Regions from separate parts of the Homo sapiens genome. Here all the other regions are linked to region 3. Evidence: fine-mapped QTL for protein levels in blood plasma. A gene starts in region 3. Each other region holds a variant in brackets. All regions are shown on one strand. Distances are between the middles of the regions. Region 1 has its middle 41 kb from the start of CRIPTO3. Region 2 has its middle 32 kb from the start of CRIPTO3. Region 3 holds the start of CHRDL1 (chordin like 1).

The links. PIP is the chance, under the fine-mapping model, that this variant and not a neighbour inherited with it causes the effect. The UK Biobank Pharma Proteomics Project read protein levels with antibody pairs (Olink). The fine-mapping took linkage between variants from a reference panel, not from the people measured, so its PIPs are less certain.
Region 1: its variant is fine-mapped to the plasma level of the CHRDL1 protein (UK Biobank, PIP 0.95).
Region 2: its variant is fine-mapped to the plasma level of the CHRDL1 protein (UK Biobank, PIP above 0.99).

Annotation. Positions count from the first base shown.
Region 1 is chrX:110,558,053-110,566,335 of GRCh38, reverse strand. No RefSeq gene overlaps it. Among named protein-coding and RNA genes, the nearest start is that of CRIPTO3, 41 kb to the right of the region's middle. The variant G/T (reference allele first, on the strand shown) is at 3,826.
Region 2 is chrX:110,484,791-110,493,073 of GRCh38, reverse strand. No RefSeq gene overlaps it. Among named protein-coding and RNA genes, the nearest start is that of CRIPTO3, 32 kb to the left of the region's middle. The variant A/G (reference allele first, on the strand shown) is at 3,537.
Region 3 is chrX:110,791,214-110,799,496 of GRCh38, reverse strand. It overlaps CHRDL1 (chordin like 1), which reads left to right and starts at 3,680. Exons shown (of 12, transcript NM_001143981.2): 1 at 3,680-3,753; 2 at 7,282-7,409. The coding sequence starts at 7,316.

The sequences.
Region 1 (8,283 bases), 230 kb after region 3:
CTGCAATAGGCCAATTTGAGCTACCTCAAAGGCCCTTTGGGTCTCAGGGTGGATAGAAACCAAGGCATAGTATATGCTACTGATTTGCAAAAGGACACAGGCTGTGTCTATAACCATATTGCATAGCCCAAAATCTCTGACTCTCCATCCAGAACATTGTTCTCCAGATACTTATTATTATTATTATCATTTTGCCTTTCCTAAATTCTTTACTCATGAGTGTGCTTTTTATAAGCAACAAATGAAACACAAGTGTTGATTTAACTGAAACATCACTTTTGAAAATGACTCAAAAATTCTTTCTCCCAAAGCAATCTACAGGTTCAATGCAACTCAATAATTTTACAGAAATAGAAAAATCACTCCTAAAATTTATGTAGAATCTCTAGAGACCTAGAATAGCCAAAACAACCTTGAAAAAGAGGAACAACATTGGAAGACTCAGACTTTCTGATTTCAAAGTTTACTACAGAGCTATAGTAATCAAAACAGTATGGTACTGGCATAAAGACAGACATATGGACATATTCATTGGAATAGAATCAAGAGGCCAAAAACAAACTCATGCATCTATGGTCAAATGATTTCAACAAGGGTGCCAAGACCACTCAATGGGAAAAGGACAGTCTCTTTAACAACTGGTGGTGGGAAAACTGGATATTCACATGCAAAAGAATAAAGATGGAGCTTATTTTATACTGCATATAAACATTAACTTAAAATGGATTAAAGATCTAAACATAAGAGCTAAAATTATACAACTCAGAAGAAAATATAGAGGAAAAGTTTCATGACATGGGATTTTGCAGTGACTTCTTGTGTATACATCAAAAGCACAGACAACAAAAGAAAAAAGAAAGAAATTGAACTTCCTCAAAACTAAAAATTTTGTGAATCAAAGGACACTATTAACACAGTGAAAAGTCATTCCATGGAATGAAAGAAAATATTTGTAAATCATATATCTGATAAGGGTTTAGTATCCAGGATATATAAGGAACTCCTACAATTCAACAACTAAGAAACAAGCAACCCAGTTCAAAAATGGGCAAATAATTTGAATTGGCATTTCTCCAAAAAAGATATACAGATGGCCAAAAAACACATGAAAAAAATGCTCAACATCACTAATCATTAGGGAAATGCAGATCAAAACCAAAATGAGACATCACCTCATACCCATTAATTTAGCTATTATAATTATTAAAACAAACAAACAAAAATCCAGATGATAACAAGTGTTGGGAAGGATATAGAGAAAGTGGAACCCTTGCACATGTTGGTGGGAGTGTAAAATGGTGTAGCCACTGTGGAAAACAGTACAGTGGTTCCTCAAAAAAAATGAAACATATAATTATTATATGATCGAGCAACTCCATTTCTAGGTACATATCCAAAAGAATTGAAAGCAGAGACTTTAATAGATATCTGTACATCATTACTCATAGGAGCATTATTCACAATAGCTAAAAGGTACAAATAACTCAAATGTCCATCAATCGACAAATAGATAATAAACAGTGGTACATACATACAAGGGAATATTGTTTAGCCTTAATAAGGCATGAGATTCTTTTTTGTGGTAATACTTTTCTTTATTGTGTTGAGGGCCAGAGGAATATGTTAAAATAGCACTCCTACGATTAAATTCAAATAATTCATTAATAAAAAGTCAGCAACAGAATTGTATGGAAAAGTAAAAGGGCCTCCCATGAGCTAATAAAGTGGTAAGATTTAACTCACCTTCTATAAATCACTAAATATTGCCATGTTGATTAACTGTGTATAATAAAACCATATTTATTTATTTATTTTTAAACTTTTAGGTTCCAGGGTACATGTGAAGGTTTGTTATCTGGGTAAATTGTGTGTCACAGGTGTTTGGTGTACGTATTATTTTGTCACCCAGGTAGGGAGCATAGTACCCGGTAGGTAGTTTATAGATCCTCACCCTCCTCCCACCCTCCACCCTCAAGTAGGCCCTAGTGTCTATTATTCTCTTCTTTGTGTCCATGTGTACTCAGTGTTTAGCACCCACTCATAAGTGAGAACATGTGGTATTTGGTTTTCTGTTCCTGTGTTGGTTTGCTTAGGATTATGGCCTCCAGTTCCTGCAAAGGACATAACTCCATTGTTTTCTATGGCTGCATAGTACTCCATGGTATATATATGCCATATTTTCTTTATCCAGTCCACCACTGATGGGTACCTAGGTTGATTCCATGTCTTTGCTATTGTGAATAGTGCTGTGATGAACATATGTGTGCATGTATCTTTTTGACAGAATGATTTATATTCCTTTGGGTATATACCCAATGATGGGATTGCTGGGTTGAATGGCAATTCTGTGGAATGAAATCCTGATACATGCTACAACATGGGTGAACCTTGAAAACATTATGCTAAGTGAAATAAGCCAAATGAAATGGCACAAATATATGATTCCATTTATATGAGGTACTGAGAATAGTCAAACTCATAGAGACAGAAAGTAGAATTATGGCTGTCAGGAGTCAAGAGTAGGGGAAAGTGGGGAGTTATTGTTTGACAGGTACAGAGATTCAATTTGGGATGATGAAAATGTTCTGGTGATGGATGGCAGTGATGGTTGCATAACAATGTGTATGTACTTAATGCCGCTGAACTGTACACTTTAAAATAATTACAATGGTAAATTTTATATTATGTATATTTTACCACAATAAAAATCTTAAAAAATGCTTTCTGTCTGCAAAAATGTTTCCCAGCCTGCCACATTTGCATTGGCCTCATCCCAATTTCCTGCTGCCAGGATTTAGAAGCCTCCCTCCAATTCTTCCAATCCTGGCCCAAGTCAGCTAAATTGCCATGACACCAAGTCACTGGAAATAATTTCTTTGTAGGAATAAGTTTCCCAGAGATTGGAATGTGCCTGATGATGCCACCATGAATCAGACAGAGCTTTGTAGTCTCTCTGCAGGCCAAAGAATTCCTGAATGTCCCTGGAAAATCTCCCTTTCTCCCCACATCCATTTCATACCCCTTGAAAATATTTATTATTACCACTTATATGGATTTTAGAATTTACAAAGCACCTTCTCACATAAACTTTTACATTTGATAACTTTAATAACACTAATAAAGATGAATGTTTTGTTACTCCATTTTACAGATGAGGAAACTGAGGCTCCAGTTCTCAATATGACTTGTCCAGGTTATCATAGTCACTAAGCAGTAAAACTGGGACTTCTTGAGCCCCGGCCTCTATTCTGACATCCCTTCCTATTTGGTTATCTCATAGGCATGTGGCAATCAACATGTTCAAAATTGAGCATATCACATCAGCTCTTCCCAACTTGCTTCTCCTGTGCTTCTCATCTTAGTGAATGACACAGATATTCTATCCAAGGCAGAAACCTTGGAGTTATTATTGATGCCCTCCTCTCCTTCATTCCCCACAGCCAATCCTCTCATCAAGTCTGTGAATTCTATTTTGTAAATCTTCTTTTTCTTAATTCATTCACTTCTCTCCATCCTCATTGCCACCTCCCTAGTCCAATCCACCATTTTCTCTCATCAGAACTCCTGCAGTAGCTTCCTAAGTCATCTTGTCTCTTTATAAGGCATTTTCATGGAATATCCAGAGCAATCTTTCTAAAATCATGTCTGATCATATTTCTTTTGGGATTTTTGTTCATTTGTGTTGTTGGTTGTAAAGCAGTTTTATAAACATTAATGCTTTAAACACCTATATACATATAAAATACACAGTCATACAGTCATGCATCACTTAATGACAGGGATATGTTCAGAGAAATGTGTCATTAGGTGATTTAGTTTTTCTGT[G/T]AACATCATAGAGTGTACTTACACAACCCTGGATGGTATATCCTACTACACACCTAAGCTCTATGGTATAAACTATTACTCCTAGGCTACAAACCTGTACAGCATATCGTCATATTGAATACTGTAGGTAACTGTAACAAAGTTGTAAGTATTTGTGTAGCTAAACATAGAAAAGGCAGAGTAAAAATGTGGTATAAAAGCTAAAAAATAGTATGCCTATATAAAAGAAAGGGGGAATTTTAAATGTTACATGGGAGTTGCAATTGAAGAAACAGTGGCCAAGAAAGGCTGCACTGGCTTGAGGGTCATATAACTAATGTAGTCACATTAAAATATTAATATACATATATCCTATGACCCAACAATGCTGCTCTTGAGTATATTATCCAGGAAAATCCTCACATAAGACCATGGGGAGACATGTGTGAGGATGTTCATGAGAGTGCTATTTGTGGTGGCCGAAGGTAGCAGAATCCCAGTGGGGAGCACTTGACTGAGCCAGTGGATAGGTAAAATGTGGTAGAGGCATGCCATGAAGTATTATGCAATGCTTATAATAACAGATTAAGTGTATGCACAGCAACATGGATTGATGTAGAAACATGATGTTGAATGAAAAAACTAACAAATGGGGGTTGGGGGGTGGAGGTGCGGGGCCAAGATGGCCAACTAGAAGAAGCAGCGATTGTAGGCTCCCATTGAAAAGAACCGAAACAGTGTGCAAATTCCCCACTGGCAACCTAGGTATCCAGGTTCTGTCATCAGGCCTGACTAGGTGGCTCGTGTGACCCACAGAGAGGAAAGAAGACCAGTGTGGTGTGGCAGCCCACCTGAGAGCCACACGGGGCAGGGGAGCCCCCAGTCCCCCGCCAAGGGAGGCGGTGAGAGAGCATGCTACCCAGTCTGGGAAACCGTGCTTTTTCCACAGAACTGTGCAACCCACAGATCAGAAGATCCCACTCGTGAGCGCATGCCACCAGGGCCTAGGGTCCCAACCATGGAGCTGCGCAGATTCTCAACAGCCACTCAGCTACAATCTGCCTAAGCCTGCTGAGTTCCTTGGTGGGGGGCAGCATCACCACAGCTGTGGCTGCCTGCTGTCTAAACCATCTGAGCTCCTTGGGGGAGGGTTGGCAGCCAACGCTGGGACTGCTAGCTGCCTAACACACTAAGCTTCCAGGGCAGGGGAAGGGTGGCAGCCATCTCTATGGCTCCAGGCCGTGCTTTTCCCCTGCAAAAGCCAAGGAGGCTGGACTGCTTGGTCCCAAGAGATATTCCCTGCAGCCCAACACACTGGCTGTGGCAGATTGCCACCAGAATGCTTCCTCAGGCCTGACCCTGACTCATCCTTCCTCACTGGGTGGGGCCTCCCTGCAGGAACTCCAACAACTCCAGCTAGGGGCTTAGGGACAGAACTCTGATCTCCCTGGGCCTGAGACCCTAGGGGGAGAGGATGGCCATAGTCTCCACAGACCAGCAGACTTAGTCTTTCCTCCTGCTAGTTCTGAGGAATCTGGGCAGCCCAGACTAGTGGGTTTCCCCCTAACATGGCACACCCCCTGCACCATGAGATAGTCAAAGTGCTTCATTAAATGGGTCCTGCACCCAGTGCCATTCAATTGGGGGAGATCCTTCAACAGGAGCTGTCAGACACCCTATACAGTGGTGTTCCTACTGGCATCAGGTTGGTGCCCCTCAAGGTCAGAGATCCCGGAGGAAGGAGAAGGCACCCATCTTTGCTGTTCTCCAGCCTCCTCAAATGGCATCTTCAGGCATGACAGCGAACCAGATGAAGAAGGCCTGAAGTGAACCCCCAGCAAACTGCAGCAGCCCTACAGAAGAGGGACCTGACCATTTAAAGAAAAACGAACAAACAAACAAGCAGAAAGCAACAACAGCATAAACAAAAAAAGTCCCCACAAAAATCCCAACCAAGGGTCAACAGCCTCAAAGATCAAAACTAGACAAACTCATGAAGATGAGAAAGAATAAACGAAAAAATGCTGAAAACCCAAAAGACCAGAGTGCCTCTTCTCCAAATAATCACGCAGAACTGGATGGAGGGTGAGATGGATGAATTGAAAGAAGTAGGCTTCAGAAGGTGTGTAATAACAAACTCCACTGAGCTAAAGGAGCATGTTCTAATCCAATGCAAAGAAGCTCAGAACCTTGATAAAAGGTTATAGGAGCTGCTAACTAGATTAACCAGTTTAGAGGGAAACATAAATGGCTTGATGGAGCTGAAAAACACAGCATGAGAACTTCGTGAAGCATACACAAATATCAATAGCCAAACTGACCAAGCGGAAGAAAATTGGAGTTTCAAGACCATCTTGCTGAAATAAGGCATTCAGACAAGATTAGAGAAAAAAGAATGAAAAGGAATGAACTAAAACTCTGAGAAATATGGGACAGTGTAAAAACACCAAACTTATGATTGATTGGAGTACCTGAAAGAGACAGGGAGAATGGAACCAAGTTGGAAATCACACTTCAGGATATTATCCAGGAGAACTTCCCCAACCTAGCAAGACAGACCAACATTCAAATTCAAGAAATACAGAGAACACCACTAAGATACTCCGTGAGAAGATCAACCCAAAGAAACATAATTATCAGATTCTCCAAGTTGAAATGAAGGAAAAAATGTTAAGGGCAGCCAGAGAGAAAGGCCAAGTCATTTACAAAGGGAATCCCATCAGACTAACAGTGGACCTCTCATCAAAAACCCTATAAGCCAGAAGAGAGTGGGGGCCAATATTCAACATTCTTAAAGAAAAGAATTTTCAACCTGGAATTTCATAACCAGCCAAACTAAGCTTCATAAATGAAGGAGAAATAAAATCCTTTACAGACAAGCAAATGCTGAGGGATTTTGTCACCACCAGGCCTACCTGGCAAGAGCTCCTGAAGGAATCACTAAATATGGAAAGGAAAACCTGGTACCAGCCACTGCAAAAACACACCAAAATATAAAGACCAATGACACTATGAAGAAACTGCATCAACTAGTGTGCAAAATAACCAGCTAGCATCAGGATGATGGGATCAAATTCCACATAACATGAACCTTAAATATAAATGGGCTAAATGTCCCAATTAAAAGACACAGACTGGCAAATTGGATAAAGAGTGAAGACCCATTGGTGTGCTGTATTCAGGAGTCCCATCTCATGTGCAAAGAAACACATAGGCTCAAAATAAAGGGATGGAGAAAAAAATTTACCAAGCAAATGGAAAGTGAAAAAAAAAATGCAGAGGTTGCAATCCTAGTCTCTGATAAAACAGAGTTTAAACCAATAAAGATAAAAAAAAGACAAAGAAGGGCATTACATAATGCTAAAGATATCAATTCAACAAGAAGAGCTAACTATCATAAATATATATGCACCCAATATAGGAGCACCCAGATTCATAAAAACAAGTTCTTAGAGACCTACAGAGAGACTTAGACTCCCACACAATAATAGTGGGAGACTGTAACACCCTACTCTCAATATTAGACGGATCAATGAGATGGAAAATTAACAAGGATATTCAGGACTTGAACTCAGCTCTGGGCCAAGGGGACCTAATAGACATCTACAGAACTCTCCACCCCAAATTGAAGAGAGGAGTGCCTCTGCCCAGCCGCCCCACCATCTGGGATGTGAGGGAGCGCCTCTGCCCTTCCCCTCCCCCCCACACTGTCTGGGAAGTGAGAAGAACCTCTGCCCAGCCGCCCCACCATCTGGGAAGTGAGGAGCGTTTCTGCCCAGCTGCAGCCCCGTCTGGGAAGTGAGTAGTGCCTCTGCCGGGCTGCCACCCCATCTAGGAAGTGAGGTGCCCCTCTTCCCGGCGGCCGCCCCATCTGGAATGTGAGGAGGGCCTCTGCCCGCCGCCGCCCCATCTGGGATGTGAGGAGCATCTCTGCCCAGCTGCCCACCGTGCAGGAAGTGAGAAGCGCCTCTGCCCAGCTGCCCAGTGTCTGGGAAGTGAGGAGAGCCTCTGCCCGGCCACTGCCCCATCTAGCAAGTGAAGAGCATCTCTGCCCAGCCACCACCCCATCTGGGAAGTGAGGAGCGCCTCTGCCCCGCCACCCAACTGACTGCGAAGTGAGTAGTGTCTCTGCCCAGCCACCTCTTCTGGGAAGTGAGGAGCACCTCTGCCCAGCCGCCCAGCTGACTGGGGAGTGAGGAGCGCCTGTGCCCGCCCGCCACACCCTCTGGGAATTGAAGAGCACCTCTGCCCAGCTGCCAACCATCTGGGAAGTGAGGAGCGCCTCTGCCTGGATGCCCCGTCTGGGAAGTGAGGAGCGCCTCTGCCCGGCCGCCCCACCATCTGGGATGTGAGGAACTCTGCTGCCCTGCTGCCCAGCTTCCCACTGTCTGGGAAGTGAGGAGCACCTCTGCCCAGCTTCCACCCTGTCTGGGAATTGAGGAGCATCTCTGACCGGCTGCCACCCCATCTGGGAAGTGA
Region 2 (8,283 bases), 310 kb after region 3:
AAGGAAGGAAGAAAGAAAGAAAGAAAGAAAGAAAGAAAGAAAGAAAGAAAGAAAGAAAGAAAGAAAGAAAGAAAGAAAAGAAAGAAAGAAAGAAAAGAAAGAAAGAAAGAGAGAAAAGAAAGAAAGAAAGAGCAAGAAAGAGAGAAAGCAAGAAAGAAAGAAGAAAAGAAAAGGGAGAAATGAAAGCTATCCAAATTGAAAAGAGAAAAATAAAATTATTTTTTTCTAAAATAACATGATCTTATGTGCAGAAAATACTAAAGATTTCACAAGGAAACTGTTAGAACTAATAAACTAATTCAACAAAGTTGCAGGACACAAAATCAACACAGAAAAATTAGTTGCTTTAACAATGAACGATTAGAAAAGAAAAGATTAGAAAAGAAAATTAAGAAAACAATTCATTTACAATTGCATCAAAAAGAATAAAATACTTAGGAATAAACTTAACCAAAGAGGTGAAACACTTGTTCAGTGAAAACTGCAAAATATTGCTGAAAAATAATTTTTAAAACCCCCAAAATCGGAAAGACATCCCATCCCATGGTCACAATTGGAAGACTCAATATCGTTAAGATATCAGGGGGATTAAGATGGCGGATAGGAGGCAGGACTAGCTTGCAGCCCCCACCTGGACAGAGAGAGCAGTGTGTGCAGACTAACATCATTAACTTTTGCTCCAAGAACTACCACAGGAACATACCAGAAAAGCCGAGATAATCCACAGACCCTTTTAAGGACAGGATCACCGCTGCAGGCTCCCTGAGATGCCAAAAACCTGTAAATCTGCTTGCTTTCTCAGCGGGCAGGCTGGTGGTCTGGGGCAAGTTCTCAGCCCTGGTCACCAGCTGCCTGGAAATAAACTCAGTGCTGTTGAGGGGGCACAGTAGGAGTGAGACTGGACTTTAGGACTGTGAGCTGCATGGGAGTGGGATGAGGACTGTGACTGCCGGCTTTCCCCCACTTCCCTGGCAACCTGTATGACTCGGCAGAGACAGCCATAATCCCCCTGGGAGCATAACTCCATTGGATTAGGAAACTCACCCCCATTCTCCACAGCAGCTGCAGGAAGCCCAGCCCCACAGCAGCTGCAGGAAGCCCAGCCCAAAGAGAGGCTGAGTTCAGACATGCCTATCCCTGCCCCCACCTGGTGGTCTTTCTATACCTGCCCTGGTAGCCAAAGACAAAAGTCATAATCTCTTGGGAGCTCTTTGACCCTGCCCACCACCTGAGAAACCTGAATGCTTAACCAGGTATCCCTAGGGCAAGTTTGCCTCCTCCCTATAGGACCACAACTGATGCACTCTTGAAATGCCTACCTCCTGGCTGGAGGCCAACCTACACAAAACCAGTGCACTGAACAAAAACACAAGCAAGGACCCTCACAGAGTCCACTTCACTCCCCTGCTACCTCCAGTGGAGCAGGTGCTGGTATCCATGGCTGCAAGACCTGAAGATGGATCACATCACAGGACTCTTTGCAGACACTCCCCAGTACCAGCCTGGAGCCCAGGAGCTCTGCTGGGTGGCTAGACCCAGAAGAGCAAAACAATCACTACAGTTCAGCTCTCAGGAAGCCACATCCCTAGGGGAAGGGGGTTAGCACTACATCAATGGAGCACCCCGTGGGACAAAAGAATCTGAATAGCACCCCTTGAATCCTAGCTCTTCCCTCTGACATAGTCTACCCAAATGAAAAGGAACCAGAAAAACAATTCTGGTAATATAACAAAACGAGATTCTTTAAACCGCCCCCTCCAACCCAAAAGATCATATCAGCTCACCAGCAATGGACCCAAACCAAGACAAAATCTCTGAATTGCCAGAAAAAGAAATCAGAAGGTTGATTATTAAGCTAATCTAGGAGGCACCAGAGAAACGTAAAGTCCAACCTAAAGAAATAAAAAATATGATACAGAATATGAAAGGAAAATTATTCAGTGAAGTAGGTGGCATAAATAAAACACAATCACAACTTCTGGAAATCAAGGACACACTTAGAGAAATGCAAAATGCACTGGAAAGTCTCAGCAATAGAATGGAACAAGCAGAAGAAAAACTTCAGAGCTCAAAGACAAGGCTTTTGAATTAACCCAATCCATCAAAGATGAAGAGAAAAGAATTTTTTAAAAAGAATGAAACCTTAAAGAAGTTTGGGACTATCTTAAATATCCAAAATTAAGAATAATTGGTGTTCCCAAAGAAGAAGAGAAATATAAAAGTTTGAAAAACATATTTGAGGGAATAATTGAGGAAAACTTCCCCAGCCTTGCTAGAGATCTAGACATCCAAATACAAGAAGTTCAAAGAACACCTGAGAAATTAATCACAAAAAGATCATCACCTAGGCACACCTAGGCACATCAGGTTATCTAAAGTCAAGACAAAGGAAAGAATCTTAAGGGCTGTGAGGCAAAAGCATCACATAACCTATAAAGGAAAACCTATCAGATTAACAGATTTCTCAGCAGAAACCATTCAAGCTAGAAAAGATTGGGGTCCTGTTTTTAGCCTCCTTAAACAAAACAACTATCAGCCAAGAATTCTGTATCCAGCGAAACTAAGCTTCATAAATGAAGGAAAGATAGTCTTTTCCAGACAAACAAATGCTGAGCAAATTCACCAATACCAGGCCAGCACTACAAGAACTGCTAAAAGGAGCTCTAAATCTTGAAAGAATTCCTCGAAATACACCAAAATAGAACCTCCTTAAAGCATAAATCTCACAGGACCTATAAAACAAAAACAATGAAAAAAAACACCAAAATTGGAAAGATATCCCATCCCATCCCATCCCATGTTCACAATTGGAAGACTCAATATCATTAAGATATCAGAGGGGATTAAGATGGCAGATAGGAGGCAGGACTAGCTGAAAAAAAAAAAAACCACCAAGGTATTCAGGCAATGACTAACATGATGAATAGAATAGTACCTCACATCTCAATACTAACATTGAGGCTCATGCCTGTAATCCCAGAACTTTGGGAGGCCGAGGCAGGCAGATCACCTGAAGTCAAGAGTTCAAGATCAGCCTGGCCAACATGGTGAAACCCCCGTCTCTAATAAAAATACAAAAAAAATTAGCCTGGTATGGTGGCACGTGCCTGTAGTCCCAGCTACTTGGGAGGCTGAGGCACGAGAATTGTTTGAACCCGGGTGGCAGAGGTTGGCAGTGAGCCAAGATTACACCACTGCACTCCAACCTGGGCAACAGAGCAAGACTCCATCTCAATAAAAAAAAAGTAATACTAACATTGAATATAAACAGCCTAAATGCTTCACTTTAAAAATACAGATTGGCAGAATGGGTAAGAATTCACCAACCAAGTTTCTACTGTCTTCAGGAGACTCACCTAACACATAAGAACTCATATAAACTTAAGGTAAAGGGGACACCAAAAGCGAGCAGGAGTAGCTATTCTTACATCAGACAAAACAAACTTTAAAGCAATGGCAGTTTAAAAAGACAAAGAGGGGCATTATATAATGATAAAAGGACTATTCCAACAGGAAAATATCACAGTTCTAAATAT[A/G]TATGCACCTAACGCTGGAGCTCCCGAATTTATAAAACAATTACCACTAGACCTAAGAAATGAAATTGATGACAACACAATAATAGTGGGGGACTTCAATACTCCACTGACAGCACTAGACAGGTTATCAAGACATAAAGTAAACAAAGAAACTATGGATTTAAAATATACCCTAGAACAAATTGACTTAACAGATATTTACAGAACATTCTATCCAACAACTGCAAAATATACATTCTATTCATCAGCACATGGAACATTCTCCAAGATAGACCATATGATAGGCCACAAAACAAGTCTCAGTAAATTTAAGAAAATCAAAATTATATCAAATACTCAGACCACGGTGGAATAAAATTTGATATCAACTCCAGAAGGAAGCCTCAAAACCATGCAAATACATGGAAATTAAGTAACCTGCTCCTGAATGATCACTGGGTCAACAATAAAATCAAGATGGAAATTTAAAAAATTCTTTGAACTGAATGATAATAGTGACACAACGTATCAAAACTCTGGGATACAGCAAAAGCGGTGCTAAAAGTGTAGTTTATAGCATTAAACGCCTTCATCAAAAAGTCTGAAAGCACAAATAGACAATCTAAGGTCATATCTCATGGAACTGGAGAAACAAGAACAATCCAAACTCAAACCCAGCGGAAGAAAAGAAATAACAAAGATCAGAGCAGAACTAAATGAAATTGAAACAAAAAAATACAAAAGATAAATGAAACAAAAAGATGGTTCTTTGAAAAGATGAACAAAATTGATGGACCATTAGCGAGATTAACCAAGAAAAGAAGATTGAAGATCCACATAAACTGGATTAGAAATGAAACAGGAGATATTACAACTGATACCACAGAAATACAGAAGATTATTCGAGGCTACTGTGAACACCTGGATGCTCATAAACTAGAAAACCTAGAGGAGATGGATAAACTCCTGGAAATATACAATCTTCCTAGATTAATCCAGGAAGATATAGAATCTCTGAACAGACCAATAACAAGCAACAAGATTGAAATGGTAATTTAAAAATTGCCAACAACAAAAAGTCCAGGACCAGATGGATTTACAGCTGAATTCTATCAGACATTCAAATAAGTATTGATACCAATCTTATTGACAACTATTCTAAAAGATAGAGAAATAGGGAATCCTCCCTAAATCATTCTATGAAGCCAGTATCACCCTAACACCAAAACCAGGGGAGGATGTGACAAAAAAAGGAAACTACAGACCAATATACCTGACGAATAAAGATGCAAAAATGCACAACAAAATACTAGTGAGCCGAGTCCAACAGCATATCAAAAAGATAACCCGCCATCATCAAGTGGGTTTCATACCAGGGATGCAGGGATGATTTAACATATGTAAGTCAATAAATGTGATACATCACATAAGCAGAATTAAAAACAAAAATCACATGATCATTCCATAGACACAGAAAAGACATTTGACAAAATCCAGCATCCCTTTATGATGAAAACAGTCAGCAAAATTAGCATAGAAGGGACTTATCTTAAGGTAATAAAAGCCATCTATGACAAACCCACAGCCAACATTATACTGAATGGGAAAAAGTTGAAAGAATTGCCCCTGAGAAATGAAGCAAGACAAGGATGCCCACTTTCACCACTTCCATTCAAAATAGTACTGTAAGTCCTAACCAGAGCAGTCAGACAACAGAAAGAAATAAAGGCCATCCAAATCAGTAAAGAGGAAGTCAAACTGTCACTGTTTGCTGATGACATGATTGTATACCTAGAAAACCCTAAAGACTCATCCAAAAAGCTCCTAGAGCTGGTCAATGAATTCAGCAAAGTTTCAGGATACAAAGTTAATGTACACAAATCAGTAGCTCTACTACACACCAACAGCGACCAAGCTGAGAATCAAGCAAGAAGTCAACCCCTTTCCCAATAGTTGCAAAAAGAAAAGAAAATACTTAGGAATATGCCTAACCAAGGAGGTGAAAGATCTCTACAAGGAAAACTAAAAAACTCTGCTGAAAGAAATCATGGACGACGCAAACAAATGGAAACACATCCCATGGATGAGTAGAATCAATATTGTGAAAATGACTATACTGCCAAAAGCAATATACAAATTCAATGCAGTTCCCATCAAAATACCATCATTCTTCACAGAACTAGAAGAAGCAATCCTAAAATTCATATGGAACCAAAAAAGAGCCTGCATACCTGAAGCAAGACTAAGCAAAGGAACAAATCGAGAGGTATCACATTACCCAACTTCAAACTATATTATAAGGCCATAGTCACCAAAACAGCATAGTACTGGTATAAAAATAGGCACATAGCCCAATGGAACATAATACAGAACCCAGAAACAAAGCTAAATACTTACAGCCAACTGATCTTCGACAAAGCAAACAAAAACATGAAGTGGGGAAAGGACACTCTATTCAACAAATGGTACTGGGATAACTGGCAAGCCACATGTAGGAGAATGAAACTGGATCATCCTCTCTTACTTTATAGAAAAATCAACCCAAGATGGATCAAAGACTCAAATATAAGACCTGAAACCATACCAGAAGATAACATCAGCAAAACCCTTCTAGACATTCGCTTAGACAAAGACTTCATGACCAAGAACCCAAAAGCAAATGCAACAAAAACGAAGATAAATAGATGGGACTCGATTAAACTAAAAAGTTTCTGCACAGCAAAATAAATAATCAACAGAGTTAACAGACAGCCCACAGAATGGGAGAAAATCTTCACAATCTACATATCCAACAAAGGACTAATATCCAGAATCTACAAAGAACTCAAACAAATCAGCAAAAACAAAACAAATCAAAAATTCCAATTAAAAAATAGTCTAAGGACATGGATAGCCAATTCTCAAAAGAAGATATACAAATGGTCAACATGCATATGGGAAAATGCTCAACTAATTATCAGGGAAATGCAAATCAAAACCACAATGCCACACCACCTCCCTCCTGCAAGAATGGCCATAATCAAAAAAATAAAAAAATAATAGATGTTGGTGTGGATGTGGTGAAAAGGGAACACTTTTATACTGTTCGTGGGAAGGTAAACTAGTACAAGCACTATGGAAAACAATGTGGAGATTCCTTAAAGAACTAAAAGTAGATCTACCATTTAATCCAGCAATCCCACTACTAGGTATCCACCCAGAAGAAAATAAGTCATTGTACGAAAAACATACTTGCACATGCCTGTAATCCCAACACTTTTGGGAGGCCATGGCAGGAGGATTACCTGAGGTTAGGAGCTCGAGACCAGCCTGGCCAACATGGTGAAACCCCATCTCTACTAATAATACAAAAATTCACCGTGTATGGTGGTGTGTGCCTGTAATCCCAGCTATTCAGGAGGCTGAGGCAAAAGAATCTCTTGAACCTGGGATGCAGGGAAGTGGAGGTTGCAGTGAGCCAACATTGCGCCACTGCACTCCACCCTGGGCAAAAGAGCGAGACTCTGTCTCAAAAAAAAAAAAAAAAGATATTAATGCTTCCCAAAGCAACCTATACATTCAATGCCATCCCTATAAATATCCCAAGTATTTTTTTTTGCGGAAATAGAAAAACCCATTCTAAAATTTTTATATGGTATCTCAAGAAACCCTGAATAGTCAAGACAATCTTGAAAAAGAAGAACAAAGTTGGAGGTCTCATATTTCCTGATTTAAAAACTTACTACAAAGCTATAATAATAAAAATAATGTGGTATTGGAACAAAGACAGACATATAGACCAGTGGAATAAAATAGAGTCCCCAGAAATAAGTCCTAGAATATATGATCAAAAGATTTTCTAGAAAAGTGCCAGGATCATTCAATGGGGGAAAGGAAAGTTTCTTCAACAAATGGTATTGGAAATTTGGATATCTACATATGAAAGAACAAAGTTAGACACTTACCTTACAAAAGTTAGAAGAAAACACAGGGGAAAAGCTACATGACATTGGATTGGTAATGATTTATTGGCTATGACACCAAAAACACAGGCAACAAAACAAAAAATTAATAAATCAGACTTTATTAAAATTAAAAACGTTTGTGCCTCAAATGTCATTATCAACAGAATGAAAACACAAACCAGTGAATGGAAGAAAATATTTGCAAATCACATGTCTGATAAGAAGTTAATATCCAGAATATGTAAAGAAACCTGAAATTCAACAACAACAAAAGACAACCCAATTTAAAACTAGGCAAAGGATTTGAATAGATATTTCTCCAAAGAAGTTATACAGATGGTCAGTGAACCATGAAAATATACTCAACACCAGTAATTATTAGAAAATTGTAAATTGAAATGATATGAAGGTACCATTTCATATACATTAGGATGGCTATTTAAAAAAAAAAAAGAAAATAACAAGTGTTGGTAATGATGTGAAAAAATTGAAATCCTTGTGCATTGCTGGTGGGAATGTAGAATGGTGTATCCACTATGGAAACCAGCATGGTGTTTCCTCAAAAAGTTAAACATAGAATTACCATATGATTCAGCAATTCCACTTCTGGATATATCTCCAAAATAATTAAAAGCATGGACTAATAAGATATTTGTACACCAATATTTATAGAAGCATTGTATGATTTCACTTATATGAGGGATCTAGAGGATTCACATTTATAGAGACAGAAAATTGGTGGTGGTTGTCAGAAGATGGGGAAAGGGAGAACTGGGTAGTTCGCGTTTTAATGGCTACAGAATTTCAGTTTGGGAAGATGAGAC
Region 3 (8,283 bases):
ATATATAGGCAAAATATGAACATCAACCTAAACCTTATACCTTTTATAAAAATTAACTCAAAATAGATCATAATTAAATGTAAAACTTTATAACACTTTTAAAACAAAAATATAGAAGAAAATATTCAGGATCTAGAGCTAGGTAAAGGGTTCTTAAACTTAATGCCAAAACATGACCTATATGACAGAAATTTGATACATTGGACATAAAACATTAAAAAATTTTGTTTTGTGGAAGTTCAAGGGAAGAGGATGAAAAGAAAAGCTACAGACTGGGATAAAATATTTGTGATAAGATATACAGGTGTCAAATAAACAATGAAAAGATGGTAGATATCATTAGGTTTTAGGGAAATGCAAGTTAAAACCACAATGAGATATCACTATATACCTACCAGAATGGCTAAAATAAAAAATAATGACAACAAAAAATGCTGGCAAGAATGCAGATAAACTGGATCTCTCACACATTTCTGGTGGGAATATAAAATAGTACAGTTGCTCTAAAAACAGTATGACAGTCCTTACAAAACTAAACATGCATTTACCATACAACCCAGGAACTACATTGTTGGGTATTTATCCCAGAGAAATGAACACTTACGCTTATTCAAATACCTGTAGACAAATGTTCATAGCAGTTGTAACCGAAATCTAGACTCAACCCTCCAATAGATGAATGGTTTAAACAAATTGTGATATATCCCTACCATGGAATACCACTCAGCAATGAAAAGGAACAAACTATTGATACCAGGAACAACTTGAATGGGTCTCCAGAGAATTATATCAGGGTTGGGGGAGAAGAGAGAAGAGACTATCTCAAAAGGTTGCATACCGTATGATTCCACGTAACATTCTTAAATGACAAAATTATAGAGATGTAGGACAATTTAGTTTAGTAGTTGACAGGGAGTAGGGAGAGGAGGAAGGGAAAAGATGGGTGTGACTATTAAAGTGTAATACAGGGTATCCTTGTGGTAATGGCGCTGTTTTATATTTTTACTGTGGTGGTGGTCACATGAATATACACATGCGATAAAATTGCATAGAATTATATACACAGGCAAATGAGTGCATATAAAACTGGTGAAATCAGAGTAAGATGAATGGATTGTACCAATGTCAGTGTCCTGTTGTGACATTGTACTATATTTATGAATGATGTTATCATTGGGGAAAACTAGGTGAAGGGTATTTGAGATCTTTCTGAATTATTTCTTACAACTGCATGTAAATCTACCATTATCTTAAAATAAAACTTTTTAAAAAATGAGTATGAGATTATGCTCTCATCCCTATTTAATAAACAGAGAAAATAAAGCATGAAGGTAATCATCACTTAAGTTTCTATAAGACCTGGTAGGATGTCTAGATTAGGACTCACCCAAATGGGAGTTCTCAATTCAGAAATCAAGATTGGAACTAATACAAAATACAAGGATGACTAACATTTACACTAATGAAAAACCTGTCAGAGAATTCCAGCAGCCCCATATACAGTTGCCTGCAACTGCATAAGAGATCTTAAGCAAGTTCAATAGAATCAACTCAATAGAACCAATTGAGAATAATTGCTTGCTTTAAGCCACTAGGTTTTCGGATGGTTTGTTATGCAGTAATTAGGATTCTACACCAAGCAAGGGAGTGAGTGGTTGTAGCCAAATAGATGAACTTTTAAATCCCAGTGAGTCTATTTATTTTAAATGCTAGAATTTATGTTTGTCTCAGACTATCCCTTGAAACTCATTTTCCAGAATACTCTGTAAGCATGTTGGAAGTAATGATGGGAGTTGGGTAATGCACGCACAAGAGAAATTGAACAACCAGTCCTTGCCCTTGAAGAACTCACAATCTAGTAAGACAAAACATCACTGCATTAAACGGCATGAGAACAGTTATAAGGCAACAAATCAGCAAGTTCAAACCGATATACAACAGCACAAATTGAATGCATGTGGCAGTGTATGGCTACCCAGGCAGCAGGACGGAGCTAGACATTTTGGGCCCTGAAGGCAACATTACAGAAAGGGCCCCCTTTCCTTTGTTAACAGTGAAATAAACATCACCAGCAATGCAGGGGCTAGCTGGATACTATTAACACTTCTGAAAAAGCAAAAGGAGGTAACGTTCAGGGACAATTATTCTTGTTTTAATTTTTCTTTGTTTTCTGTTCCTGATAAGTGGTTTGTTTGTTTGTTTGTTTGTTTTTTTGACAAGCCACAGTTTCTCTGAACATCAATTTCCTCATCTACAGACTGGAGATAACAACCAGAGAGTAGTGGGTTGAAAGTCAGGGAATCTGGATTGGAATCTCAAATTTGTCATTTACTAGCTGTGTGACCTTAGATACATCATCCTCTTCCCCCAATTCAGTTTCCTCTTCTGTGAAATGATGAAGTTAAGCTGAATGGTTCAGAAGTTCCCCACCAACTCTAACACTTGAGACCTCAGGTAGTTCGGTTGGTTTTGAGGGTTTAAAAAGTAATGTTGATGTATGTGAAAACACTCCGTAAGCCATAAAGTACTATACAGATGTTAGGAATATAGATATTTATCTAGTTCATCTAGAAAAAAGCTCTGCGGTTCTTCTCCAAATTTAGGGGCTTAAAATTTTGTCTGTCGAGGCAGCACTTTCCTGGACCCTAGAAGTTTCTGACAATTCTTTGCAACTATCACTTGTTGAATAAACACAAATTTGGAGTAGGCAGGCCCACCAAGGCATCAGCAGTGCTACTGTGATTTCCAGGTTGAGCTCTTGGCCCAACTTAGAAGCTTAGGGACTCATTTAAAAAAAAAATGGTGGGTATAGTGTGTGGCACCAAGTTTTCTTCAAGACACTTAACAGTTAGAACAGGCCCTTTCCATGAGGCTTGGGAGCCCAGTTTGTAAGAGAAAGTGGATTTCTAATCCCTGACCCTACACACACCCATCTCCACCCCGCCTTTAAGGACACCAAACCAAAGCTTTGTCACTCTGTTAGCCACAGTGTGGATATGGGAAACGCCGTGAAATGATAAGCAGCATGCTAGGGCGTGATTTGCGAGGAGGGTTCATTCTGTGTCCAGGGCACCAGCTCAGTACCAGACCAGGTGCACACCTCGGAAAGGCCTTGGTGCCGGAGGAGAGCGGGTGTGGGCTTCCAGGCAGGGGAGTCAGAGGGTAGTCGGTATCTTCAGGGCGTGCGCGAGTGGTGGGGAGCTCCTAGGTGCATCCAGTGCAGAGGGGGAGGAGGGACCGGAGGAGCTGTGCGGTCCCTTTAAGACCCCAACGCTCGCCTAGCCAAAGGAGTGGGGGCTGCAGTGGGGGCGCTGTGTGATGGGAAAGTAGCCGGCTGAGTCTCACACTTTCTCCCGATTTTTAAACTTTCGGGCCGGGGGAGCAGAAATAAAGCCATTGTGCCGGGGTGGAGAAAGTGTGCGTGCTTGCAGCGGCTGCGTGCTTGCGGACTTCCCGCCAGCGCCGAGCGGCCGGCTTCTCGGGCCAAGTGGGGAGCGAGCGGGAGGGCGGGCAGGTGGCCCCGGGCCGCCGCGCCCGCGCCTTGGCTCTGCCCCCGGGAGCCGAGCAAGCCGCTGCTCCCTCGTGGTGTGAGGGCGGTGATGTTTTTCCTCCCACCCACTTTTGAGTTCCCCCTCCCCCCTCGCGCGCACTCTAGCTCTCGCCACAACCTGCCAGCCCCAGACCTCGGACGAGAGCGCCCCGGGGAGCTCGGAGCGCGTGCACGCGTGGCAGACGGAGAAGGCCAGTGCCCAGGTTAGTGAGCAGTGCCCGGCGCCCGCTTCCCTCACCTCCTTTTCCAGCCTTTGCACAGGTGGGTTGCCTTCTCTTGGCCGGAGCCGTCCCTGGAAGTTTCCCCAGGGTGCCCCAAATTCCCCTGCCACCCCAACCTGTTCTGTGCTCCAGCAGTTAGCAACCTGGATGGAGGTGGGGCCCAAGGCTTCTGACCAAAGCAAGTTGGGGGTCTCTGAATTCGAACTCACAGCTCGTCCCTCCCCACTCGGCCTGCATTTCTTTATGCTCTGGCGCTTTGAGAGGTCACTTAGGTACTCCACCCTGAGCTACCCAAGGGACTCTGCAGTCCCCTTAATCACTGCCTGTATTCCTGAGCCTGTTTTCTCATTTTGCTGATGAATACATGGTAAAGTTAATGTAGCAGGGTAGATGGGCGAAAGGCTCCCTATCCTATCCTCTGGCCATCTGCCTCATTTTTTGTCCCTGACTACGGGGGTCAGAATTTGAGACACTAGGCTCTGGAAGCAACGTGGTATATTGCCAGAACATAGGGCCCGGAAAGCCTGCTTTCCAGTCCCTCCCAGCCCTGCCACTAAAGTTATTTGAGTTCTCTGGGTCCCCCCAGTGCCCATTTTGAAGGTGGAGTTGTGTGGAATGAAATGAAATGATAGAAAGGTGTTTTGCAAGCCAAATGCGAGGCATTGTTTGTCAGTCATAAGCAGCAATGAAAGCATTTCCTCCAACAAGAGATACCCTGGGTTAAAACTGCCATTTTCAGTGGCAACACACCACCAGTTAACTGAACTTTTCTTGCTGGGTGGTAGAGTGGGGAGAGGATTTCAGCTGATGGACAAGGGCCTGGGACTCCAGTGTCTTTCTTATTGTTTGTCGGAAAGAAAATTGCTACCCTAGGGGCTGTCCCACAGATGATAGTCAATGTGAGATTACAAGGTCAGTCAAGCCTCTCAGGAGGATTAAAGAGACACTGTGGGGCGTGAAGAACTGGCTGACATGTGTTCATCCCTTAGCCTTCCTGTGGGGATGTCTCTTTGCTTCTGTTCTACCCAGGAGACCTGTTCTGAAAGTGGGCTCCTGACACTTGATGGCCCAGATTGCCTTGCAGTCACAGCTGGGCAAGGAGCAGTTGGTCCCTTTGCTTAACGCAGATGAACAATGTGAATGCTTGTTTCATGGAAGCACCTTAATAAATACCTTTCTTTTGGTACTTGATACATTTCTCTTTCTCTTGTAAAACACAGGAACTCTCCCATCCCACCTCCACTACCTGTGTTAGTTGCAGGGTTTTGTTTTTTTGTTGTTGTTGTTGCTTTCTTGTTGGGTCCTGGATCCCCTGAAGCATGTCAATGGCTACATGTCTAAGTAACCTGTAAAAGAGCCAGTGCAAGTTCAATGGCACAACAGCCTGTGTGAAGCAGACAGAGAGTTAATGCAGAAATAACTCCAGTTAACTGGGTCAAAGTATAATTTGAAAAATTAAGGACAGTTTGGCTCTTTGCAAGAATAAGAGTCGGCTAAGTTCGCTGAGCAATGCTTGCTAGTGTTTACTGCTGCAGTCCCAACACATGTTTTGAACCACCCCCTTCCCTAAAAGAAAAAGCTGAAGAGATAAAGAGAAATTGAACAGTGAGGAGATCTGGGGAGGGAACTCTTCTTGGTTCATATTTCTGCACAGAATACAAAGGCAGGACTTCAGGATCTTGTAAATCAAAAGTGAATATTTATAAAGCGATTCATTTTCTGATGTTCTCCATCACAGCCTGGGAGGCCACACAGATGACAGGAACGCCAAAGGAGATTAATTGCTCTCTAGTTACCAACTTTTTTATTTGCTCATAATATTAGTTGGGACCTAAGAAAGGCAAAAAAATCTATGAGCTGTTTTCTTGCCAACTTGAGTTATGAAGCAATGCTACAGTTCACCGAATCGCCCAACCATTATACAAGAAAAGCAGCCCTGTTGATTCTCGCATGGGGAGACCCTAAAACCATGGTTTCAGAAACACCCGTTGAAATCCATATATGAATGTGATAAATTGGATTTCAGTGGTTAAAAATCTTTCTCTTTTGGAGGCTTGGGGAATAAACTTATTAGAATAGGCTCAGGAAGAACCTCACTGAGGTGGGTAGCTGTGTTAAATTGTTAATGAAAATGATTTGTTTCGAATAAACGTGGTAGCCCTCAAGGGACAGTAACATTCTGAGTGATTGTAAGTGGGCCACAAACTCACAGAGGGGACCAAGACATCAGAACTCAGGTCTTTAGATGGGTAGGAACATGTCCTGAGAGAATTTGGTTCTTTAAGGAGCAGGGAGGAGGTAAAGAAGGAAGGCAGACGGTGCTGCAAATCTTGTTTGATAGCACAGATTACTCTATCATCAGTTCTTCCTTGGTTATGCATTCATAATTGAAACAGTGGATTTTGAATGACCCAGGCAACTTCATAGCATTTAAGTAGGAGCTGTAGCATCTACTTCAGAGCCCAAAGATATTCAACTCTCCAAAATGATCGTTTTGCATTCCTTCAAGTTCTTTATGTGCAATATTTAGGTTGGACTTTCTGGAAAGATCAATGAGTTCATTTCCCATTCAGATTGAATCTGGTGTTTTTAGAACATTTCAATATTTTCAGATCACCCATTGGAGGAATTTTGCAAACTCTAACATCTGTGGAAATGATCCGTGACTAGATGTGAGCTACAGCAAACTTTCTGTGTTCCAAGGTTCAAAAGGTTTAAGATTTCTACCCCTTATACTGGGAATGCCAATCTCATGTTTTGAAGAACTGTAGTTGTTTTAATGGTCTTTTGCATGGTGGTGCAAGGTGAACAAATTATCTATTTAATTTGCCCAATTTCCCCTAAAAATGGCCCATTTAAAATTTCCATTTTACAATGGACTTCTTGGGGGAGGAATATGTTGGAACCATTTTAAGCAGTAAAACTTTTCAGGTGTTTAATTGCATCCATTTGCTAATTACATCTATCTTTTGCAATATTAGTTGCCAAACCAAAGATCCTTGTAGATCTCATAGAGGACACAGGAGAAACTGATCAATTTGTACTTCATTCCAAAAGGATTAAAAGTAGTCTTGAAGCTAAGATTAGTTAACTTTCATTTCAGAAATTGCTTGGTCTCATGCTTGTTACTTTTACCTTGTTTGCTAAAATAACCGTTTTTGCAAGCTAAAGTTTCCCTTTTCTCCCAAAAAAATCTCTTGAGAAATCAACTTTAATTCCCTTAGAAAGGAAGATTTCAAAATTTATTTTCATTTTCCTATAACTTGCCTGTAAGGACTTAGCCTCAGCTTTGGATAGGAATGCACCCTCATTCACTTGAATTTTCACCCACAAGCCTTGCAAGACAGGAGAGGCAAGTCCTTTATCTTGTGCAGGCAGACAATACTTACACTTATGTAAATTCTAGGACATTTTTTTTTTATTCTAGCAGGTTAGAAGCCTGAGCATCAGTGACCTCTATCATTTCCAGAAGATCTGTGTTAAGTCTTTTTTCTGCTTTCTTCCCAACAGCTTGAAGGTTCTGTCACCTTTTGCAGTGGTCCAAATGAGAAAAAAGTGGAAAATGGGAGGCATGAAATACATCTTTTCGTTGTTGTTCTTTCTTTTGCTAGAAGGAGGCAAAACAGAGCAAGTAAAACGTAAGTGTCTTGCATTTGGAAAATAATACACTTTTTATAATTTCTTTGAAAATGTGGCTATAATCTGTAGCAATTATGATTTAGCCCAAATGTGGCCGTGCCATTATTCTAAGAGAAGAAAGTGAATGTTACTGGTTTATGCATGAATTGATAAAAGAATGAGAGCTTTGAATCAGGCCAACTAAATTTGGGGCTGTTTTTCTGATTATCATGTAGTCTTTGTCTCATAGAACATATGACACATTAGCTTATTTTCTCTTCCCTGTTCTAAACTATACAAATCTCATTACATTTTACGTAACTCTAGAAATATCTGACAGATGAGCTGGAATTTTCCCAAATTTCAGACTCTTCAGCAAAGGCTTTCAGTTTATGAAAAATAATGACACAGAAAAGAAAAAAAAAGAAAAAGAAAAGCAGGCTCTGCCTATTCCCTTATGCCGAAAAACGAGGAAGGACGAAACCTTCCTATGAACTGGGCTCAGATGAAAAATGTTTTGAGGAAATTGAGATTCCAGGGACCGTTAGCAAATTGGATGCCATTTATTGAAAAGAACATCCCCGCAAAGCCAGGGAATATTTCTAGAAAGTCAGCGATCCGTGTAATGGGCTAACACATTGGAGAAAGCAGAGAGTGGCAGGAAGTGGGGGCGGGGGGGATAATTAACCCTCCTTGCTGCCACGTTTAGGAGATTTATGAGTAACGGTCGACATATCCGTTCTTGCTGCCTTTGCACAATGTGGGTCTTACCTTCTTTGGGCCACTTGCAGCCATCTCTGAGGTAGATGCTTGCTCTAAATTTGAAGGAAAAGCCTAAGCTCTAGTTCCCCTTTTTGACAGCATCAAAAAAAGCACAAAATGGAATTGGTCCAA